Regions from separate parts of the Homo sapiens genome. Here region 1 is linked to region 2. The links come from fine-mapping of genetic effects on gene expression. Tissue or cell type: thyroid. Region 2 holds a variant in brackets; the other region holds the start of a gene. All regions are shown on one strand. Distances are from middle to middle.

Region 1 (4,000 bases), 27 kb before region 2:
GAAGTGCCACGGGCCGACCCCACTGGCAGGCCTCCCACTGGCAGGCCTCCCCGGAGTCTCTCTCTCCTTGCGAGCCCCTTAGGTCTCCAAGCTGGTTCCTTCCAACCTCTCCCTTAGGCCTCATGCCAGGGCGATCTCCTGCGCCAGCATCAGGCCCTCATTTACAGCAGAGGTGACAGAGGCACAGAGAGGTCCTGACGCCAGCTCAGGTGACATCCCCAGCAAAGGGACCATCCCAAGCACACGCTGAGTGGCCTCTGGAAGCCAGCAGGACATGGGGAGACGAAGCCAGACCCAGGGTGGCTGAACGGGCCCAGCAGGGGCTGGACAGAAGGTGTGGGGTTGGGGGTAACTTGGAGGCAGCTACTGAAAGAGGGTTTTACAGGAAAGCACTCAGTGGGAATCAGGAACCTGGGTCCTGCTGACTGGCCTGGGGCAAGGCTTCTGTCCCCTCACTGGGCCTCAGTGACCCCACCGCACCTCAGTCCCCTCACGGGTCAAGGCTCCGGGACACCCCAGCTCCCTCCGGCAGGCCGGGCCTCGTCGGTGCAGTACCCATCATGGACTCAGGAGGGCAGCAGCCACCTGCCTTTCCCAAGAGCTGCCTGGAAGTGGAACCTCCCCACAGGCGGCTCCAGGTGGAGGCTGCAGCCCACAGGGGTCAACTCTTAGCTCCTCCCTCATCCACCCTCCCTCCCAGGGGATGGATGGCCCACGGGACCCATCCCTGAGGCCAGCCTGTGCCCTGCCCAGATGGCACCTGACACCCAGGCAGCCCCAGCCACAGGGCAGACATTGGGGGACTAGTGGGTGGGGCGACCAGAGCAGGAGGGGCAGGGCAGGCCGCCCCTCTACCTATGACACCTGAGAAAATGCCAAGTGACAGCCCCAGAGCCTGTGGTGTCTCCTCAACCCGCAACGGGATCTCACGGCCGCCCAGGCCAGGGAGGCAGGTCCTGGGAGGAGGGTGGTCAGTGCCTCTGGCTGGCACACCGGTGCCCGGCCCACGACCCCAAGGCCTGGGGTCAGTGAGGGGACGCTGGTAGAAGCTGACCCAAAGCCCAGTGTGGATGTTCACATGGAGGCCTTTGGCAACAGGCCTTTCCTGAAAAGGGGATGATGGAGGCAGGTCAGAAGTGGGTCTGAGCCCTGGGACCTCAGGTCACATTCCTGAATGGCCAGGCCCAAGCTTGGGAGGCTTGGCTCAGCCCCCAGCCCCTCCCACAGCACCAGGTGGCCTGATTCCTGAACCCCCAGCTGGGGGGCTGCTGCAGCCTCTGCCCGGGGCCCTCCCTCACTTTCACACGGGTTCCCAGCAGGCGGAGCAAGGAAAGGCCAGGCTCGGAGTCCAGGCTCAGCCTTGTGCACGAGGGCGAGCGCCTTCCTTTCCAGGACTCGGTCCTTCTCTGTGAAATGGGGATGACCGCGACTCAACCACACCAAAAAGGTGGCCAGAGTGCTTTGCGCCCTCTTGGCTGTCTTTGGCCGCCTGGCTTCCAAGAATCCAGAGGGCCGGGCCTTTCTACAGCAAACATCGGTCCCCGCAGGGCTGGTCTCCTTCCCCGAAGGCTTCCTGGAGGAGGCAGTGGAGCGGGGCCTGGAAGGACAGTGACGCAGGAGGGAGCCGAGCCGCTCTGGCCCCACGCCTGGCAGGCGACTCCCGGGCCGGCCTCGAGGGGGCGTGGGCGCGGGGAGGGAAGGCGCAGGCACCGGGCGGCGGCGGCTCGGCGGGAATCGAGAGGCGCGATCCAGTCCGGGCGATCACGTGGGCTCCAGCCGGCCCAGGTGGGGCTGTGACCTGTGACGCAGGCGGCGCCGCCACAGGTGCCCGGGACGCGCCCCGCCCCCTCCCCGGCCCTCCCCGCCCGGGCCCTCGGACCCGGAGCAGCCCCGCCCGCCCAGCGCCCACCTGCGGGGCCGCAGCCGCCGCCCTCCAGCCAGACCGCGCAGGAAGCGGAGGAGGCGCCCCGGGCCGGACCGCGCTGCCGCAGGAGCGAAGCGGCTGCAGGACAGGACAGGACCCGGCGCTGGAAGCTGCACCGCCAGCGCGCCGCCCCTCCGTCCCTCCGCCCCGCGGCGCAGGTGAGCCTGGGGGACAGGTGAGCCGGGGGACAGGTGAGTCGGGGCTCGGGGGAGCCGGGTGGGGGGATTAGCCCGGGGGAGGCGCCGGGAACCCGGGGCGCTTCTCCTCCCCCTCGCTTTTCCCGCAAGCCCCGCCCCGGCAGCCGCAACAACTTCGCGACCCTCCTGGGGCTCCGCCGGGGCGGGAGAGGCGGGGCTCGCGGGCTGAGCCGGATGCGACTTTGGACCCGCCCCCCCACACACACCAGGCAGCCCCCTGCTTGCCCCCGCCCGCTCGCTCGCTGCCCTCTCTTGACCCCGAGTGGCCGCTTCCTCTTCCTAAAGGAAAACTTCCATGCAACCGGAACCTGGGTTCAGACTTGAGCGCCGAGGACTCTGGAAGCCCCAGGGAGTTTGAAAGAGCATGGGGTGGGGGGCGGAACAGAACGACCCTCCCGGGAGCTCTTTGGGGAATCTGACACCCAAACCTGCTTTGGCCCCAAAATTTCAGAAAAGCCCCGAGAAGGAAGAACCCCACACCCAAGACAAACCCAAACCATACGCCCCTCCCCCACCCTTGACCTTGGTGGGCGGTGGCAGGGAGGGACCTGCTTTGTCTCCCCTGAGAAGGGAGATGGGGAGGGGGAGGGGTGCGTCCCACCTACCAGGGAGCCGTGGCCGCTTGTCTTGGCCGCTCAGCCTCTTTCTGCGTCTGTGAAATGGGAACAGTATCCCTTTTGAGATTTGAGCAGGTGGGGGGACTGAGGGAGTGGCAGCGATGGCAGGTCTTGGTGACCTCTGCTTCTGACCTGAATCAAGGCCTGAATCTTCTCTGTGTCCTTGAGGGGAACAGTCTGTGCACCACCTAACATGGGGGCCTAGGGGGTGCGTGTGGGCCTGGCTGGGGGTCCAGCAAGAGGGTCCAGGTGCTGTGCCTGGCTGCAGGTCCTGACCCCTCCGTGGCATAGTTCCCAGGTGTGTGGGTTTCAGGCTCACATCCTGGCTCTTTGTGAACTAAGCAGCTCTTGGGGCCTCGGTTTCCTCATCCGTAAAATGGGACTAGTAGGAGTGTTGAGTTAGAAGATGTTGACCCACAAGTGTGCCAGGCAGACGTGGACCCTGCTGTGCGATGCCCACAGCCAGCAGAGGGGAACAGGGTGAGATGAAAGGTACTGTCCAGAGCAGGAGCCATGGGCTGAAGGTAGGCACTCCTCACCCACCCCAGTCTTGCTGGAAGGGAGGTGTCTTGGGGGCTTCCTGGAAGAAGTAAGTCACCTGGACCAAAGTCACCTGGAGGGTGGGATGGGCCCTCCCTCCACCTGGACACTGGGGAGAAACCCTTGTTGGGGGGCCTCCCTGAGGTCGCTGGCTCTTCGGGGGCCATCTCTGACCCACAGGACCACCCTATGTGGGAAGCACTTTCCACCTACACATGAGGAAACTGAGGCACAGAGGTGAAGCAGTGAGAAGCGGCGTGCCAGGGTCCCCACAGCTCACATGTGACGCGCAGGTCCCCATCCTGAGGATGGCCATCTGTGTTCACGTTGTGATCCAGGCGCAGGCGCTCCCCGCGAGTTTGGGTCTGAGTTTTAGTTTTGGTTTCCAGATGGATCTGGGCTGCTCCTGTCCTTAGCACAGGGGACCATCCGTCTGGAGCAGCGTCCTTATTTCTAGTGACTCCCTGGCTGAGGCCAGAACCCCCACTCCCCCCGGTCCCCATTTGGGGACAGCCATCCAGGTCAGGACAGGGCCTGGCCAGCAGTCCCACCCCCGCAGGCCACATTCCCTCTGCACCTGGTTTCCTTACCTGCCCGGGAAAATACCCACCTTCCAGAAGTTTGGGGAGGGGCAGAAGACAGTGGATGACAGGGCATTCAGAGGGCACTGTCTGTGTGTCTGTCCTACAGCGGGTGAACGGGTGGCAGGAGACCTGTCACCC
Region 2 (4,499 bases):
CAGCTCGTCTTGACTGAGGACAGCTCTGGGCCGTTTCCAGATGAGGATGCTGAGGCTGAGTCTGTCACAGCAAACGGAGGGGGCAGGGAGCTGGGGCCCAGTGCCAGGAAACGGGGTGGCCTCAGGTCCAGCAGGCTGGGGTCTGGGTGTGTGGCCACTACCCAACTCTGTGACCTGGGGCTGGGGTGACTTGGGGGTTAGCCTGCCTGGCACAGTCTGCCCAGCCACTCCTGCCCACCCCCACCACCCCCATCTCCTTGCCACGGCCCCCATGGGTGGCTGTCAGAAGTCAAGGAACATCAGACGGGCAGGATCGGTCTCCAGGCCTGGCTCATGCTGTCTCTGGTCCCCAGGAGTGACCGGGCACGGTGGATCGTGGCGCTCACACACAGTGAGAGACAGTGGCAGGGCCTCTCCAGCAAAGGAGGTGAGTGCGGGCTGGGGCCTGCAGGGCTGGCCCTCTGCCGTGGCTGGCACTTTGGCCCCCACTGTAGCCCAAGTGAGCCTGGCACCTGGCCTTGTGCTGGGGCCTGGCAGTCGGGGGATGGGGTGCCCCGGCCCCGGGGGATGTGTCTGCTGGAGGCCGTTGGGGAGTGGAGCCTGGCCCATGCCTCCCGACAGCCCTGTGATGGCCACTGCCCTATGCAGACCTGCCCCAGGTGGAGATCACCAAGGCCTTCTTCGCGAAGCAAGCAGACGAGGTCACACTGCAGCAGGCGGACGTGGTCCTGGTTCTGCAGCAGGAGGATGGTGAGTGCAGGGGCGTTGGGCACAGATGGGTGGGAACGGACAGGCGGGCGTGAGTCAGCGTCCAGCCTGGCCAGGTCCAGAGCATGCCGGGCTGCAGGCTGACCATGTGCTCACCCTCTCTCGAGGGCTTCCTCAAAGGGAGCACTCCCACATCCCCAAACCTCAGAATCAAAAGCAGGTTCATGGTCACTGTGTCCCACGTGGGGAGGAGGAGGTGTCTCTGCCCTCCCAGGGGATCCCCGCTCAGCCAGGCCCAGCACGAGCCTGCAGAGGGCAGGCAGGGCTCCTCCTCATGCCGGGCAGCGCTGTGTGGGGTGTGCTCAGCCCAGCACCCTTCTCAGTGGCGAGCACCTGAGCAGGGGCTGGGTGCCCGGTGACCATGAGCAAGGCCTCAGCAGCTGTCTGCTCTGAGCAGGAGCAGGTGGTCAGTTCTAGGAGAAGCCTGGCCCTGGTGTGCTCAGGCATAGCAGCTCAGAGGGGCCGGGGGACCCACGGCCTTCCCCTCACCTCCCTCCCACCCCTATCCGGGTTCAGGGTGGCTCTATGGCGAGAGGCTCCGGGACGGAGAGACGGGATGGTTCCCCGAGGACTTTGCCCGCTTCATCACCAGCCGTGTGGCCGTGGAGGGCAATGTCCGCAGGATGGAGCGTCTGCGGGTGGAGACGGACGTGTAGCCCTGGCGAGGCCAGCCGGCGGCAGCACAGCCTGTCTCCAATCAGCAAGTGGTCGTGCCTGGCTCTAGAGAGCGTGGGGAGCTGGTCTCAAGGACCCAGCATGGTTCCCTGGGGCTTCCCAAGAGCCTGTGGCTGTGGTGCCGGGCTCCAGACACTTCACGGAAGGAAGATCACATGTCCCCAGAGAGGCACCCCCAGGCAAGCTCGAGGGGGCCACACCGTGTCCCAGGGAGCCCAGCCTATTCCCGTTGGCTGGCTGGGCCCCTCAGCTGCTGGGCCCCACCTCCCCACTGCACCCAGGGGGCAACTCCACCTGGACTGATGGGCACAGGAGGCACCAATAGCGATTATTGGGGGCAATGCGAGGTCTCCTCCTATGCCCTTCCTACCCCTGAGTGGGACAAGAAGGGCCCTGAGTGCCCAGGAGTGCCCCACGTTCTGAGAAGGGGCCGGCCGGAGGGAGGGGACCCGGCAGGGAGATTTCGGTTTTGAGGTTTCTAAATACATTAAAGTTATTTCTTAAGAACCTGGATTTTCACAGTGACTCTGAGCCCAGGCAAAGACCGTGGCCACACATTTTCCAGGGACATACTCAGGATGCCGCGGGCCGGCACCAGGCCCCCTGTGCATGGCCCCCTTGTGTTGGGTGCCGTGTCATGTGTGGTCGCCCCAAGCTCGCCCCTGGTGTGGCCAGTCTGCCCACCGGCTGGAGCACTGGAGCAGGGCCAGCGGCCCCTGATCGTGTACTGAGAA[G/C]CCAGGGGCGGCACAGCTGCGCCTTGCAGGGCCCAGGCTGGCCAGTGGTTTAGAGGACTCCGGGATTCAGTAGAGCTTTTGGGGATCCCTCTGCAGTGTCCCCAGGGTTGGAGACAGGCCCCACCTCCCTCCCAGTTTTTCCTCCCAGCCATCTCGTCCTGGGAGCTGCAGGCAGAAGAGGCAGTCCCTGAGCCAGTCGGCTGACCTGGGGTGGCACAGCAAGAGGAGGACTGGTCCTCTCTGTCCCAGGAAGCCCCCACCAGCCCTCCTGTGTCCGACGCCAATGCCCGTTGCCTTTGTGGGCTTGGGTAATGCTGTCCTCAGGGAGGGAGCACCCAGCATACACCTGAGAATCTGCCCTGATCCTCCTGGGTCTGGGGCCCTGGCTTCTGCAGGAAAGTCAGGGGTGCATCTACCCCATATGCCAACCAGAAATGGTGATAGGAGACTGCCCTCCACCCCTCCCAGGCTTGGGGCAGCTGCAGGACCTGGTGCATGAGAGGTGGGGTGGGCTGAAAGAACACGCTGCTCCCAGCCCCCGCCTGCTGGACCAGGGCTTAGGGGAGGAGGCGAGGTCTGGAGGGCCGTGCAGTGCGAGGAGGGCCAGCTCCTCTCCCGGTCACCTCCATGGCCTTGGGCAGCAGCAATGGCCCAGTCCAGGCTCGGAGCCCACGCAGGACTGTCCTGGGCAGGGCTTTGGTCAGCGGCCGCCTCGCAGGGCGGGGCACAGCCAGGGCTCTGGGAAAGAGGAGGCACCTGGGAGCAGAATCCCCTGAGATGGGGCCAGCTCCTCCACGCCCAGCGTGGCATCTCCAGCCTCCGCTGTCCTGCCTGTGAACTGGTTACTCCCTGGGCTTTTCCTGGAGCTCCTGTGGGAGCAAACTGGCAGCCAGGGCAGGGCATGTGTGTTGGCAGGTGGTGTGTGCATGTGTGCTAGCATGCCTGTCTCTGTGTGTGCGTGTGTGTTGGGGGGCGGGGGGGCGGGTAGCCAGGGGGCAGCAGTTTCGTGTAAACCCAGCTGCCCTGCAGCCTCCGGGCGGTTCTCACTGCCAAGTTCATGCTCAGCTCACGGAGCAAGGCGGATCTGGAAAGCCTGGCCTCTGACTCTGTGACCTCACTCTCACGTATGTGACCTGGGGCAGGTGACTCAGCCTCTGCGCCTCAGTTCCGTCTGCAAGTGGCTACAGCAGCCTCTGCGTTTTAGCGGGCAGTGAGAATGCTCAGCCTGCAGGGAGGGGGTCCGGGCCCAGGCTGGGTGGCTGTCCTGCTATGGCAGTGGCCAGGCTGTTGTTGGGGGCATCTGGGGCAACCTGGGGAGGGCCCAGTTCAGGCCTGCTCAGGACGAGAGCCCCTCCCGGCAGAGTCAGGAAGCGCAGGCCTGGGCTGCCAGTGAGGTGTGGGCCCAGGCAGGGGCGAGACCTATGGGCAGGAGGGGCGTCAGGAGAGGGGGCCACAGGCTTGTGTAGCCCCGTCCCCAGCACCAGTGCCAGCTCACGCCCGTCCGAGGGCCCCTGCTCAGCCTGGGGTGCCGCCTTCACTGGCCCAGGTGCTATGGCCCCCTCAGCAGGACAGAGCCAGCCTGGACCCCCAGGACGATCACCCCCTCCCCGGGGTCTTCTTGCTCACTCTCCTCATGGAACCTCAGCCTGTCCCGTACTTCCAGTGTTGGGGTCCAGGGACACTTCCCCGCCCACAGTCAGATAATAGGGCTCCTGCGGGGGCTCTGCCACACGGGCTCAGCTGGAGAGGGGTCCCAGGAGACAGACAGGGCTTACCTTGCTCAGCCCTCCTGTGCAGCCACATAGCCTGGGTAGCTCTCTGGCTGCACAGACCCTCCTGTTGCAGGGGGTGAAACTGAGGCCCAAAGACCCTCTTCCCACTGCAGGGGGCTATCAGGGCTCTAAAGACACCCGTCTAGCCAACAAGGCCTGTGCCCCGAGTAGGTTGCCAGGGTGCCCACAGTGCTTGGTGTCCCAGCCCATCCTTCAGGCCATTGTTGGCCTGGGGTGCTGTGGGGGCTGTGTGGATGCAGGGCAGTGGGAGGGGGCTGCTGCTGAGGCCTTGCGCCCAAGCCCTGTCCCCAAGGCCACCCTGGGCAGGATAGCCCAGGCCGAGGGCTGGGGTTCATCTTGGCAAACTTCAGTGCCCAGCCCTGGGCGGGCACAGAGTGGACACTGCTGGGTCCAGACAGGCACCACCTAACCTTTCCTGCGGCCAGGGGAGCAAGGGGGGTGTGGTTCACAGGAGCACAGAAGCCACGCGGGAGTGGCCGCCCCAGCTAGGCCGGGACAGCCATCAGACTCGACAGGCCACCGGTCCCTC

Direction of the effects. Positions count from the first base shown, and alleles are read on the strand shown. Sizes are in standard deviations (SD) of each study's normalised expression.
For the expression in thyroid of the gene that starts at base 1,936 in region 1, allele C in region 2 goes with a lower level than allele G (moderate effect, 0.46 SD a copy in GTEx).

What was found. PIP is the estimated chance that this variant, and not a neighbour inherited with it, causes the effect.
Region 1: ARHGEF16 starts here. The variant in region 2 is fine-mapped to the expression of ARHGEF16 in thyroid (GTEx, PIP 0.97).

What each region holds. Positions count from the first base shown.
Region 1 is chr1:3,452,730-3,456,729 of GRCh38, forward strand. ARHGEF16 (Rho guanine nucleotide exchange factor 16) reads left to right here and starts at 1,936. Exons shown (of 15, transcript NM_014448.4): 1 at 1,936-2,082. RefSeq lists an enhancer at 18-770.
Region 2 is chr1:3,479,164-3,483,662 of GRCh38, forward strand. ARHGEF16 (Rho guanine nucleotide exchange factor 16) reads left to right here. Exons shown (of 15, transcript NM_014448.4): 13 at 354-427; 14 at 649-750; 15 at 1,285-1,950. The coding sequence ends at 1,424. Among named protein-coding and RNA genes, the nearest start is that of ARHGEF16, 27 kb to the left of the region's middle. RefSeq lists an enhancer at 3,932-4,499. The variant G/C (reference allele first, on the strand shown) is at 2,178.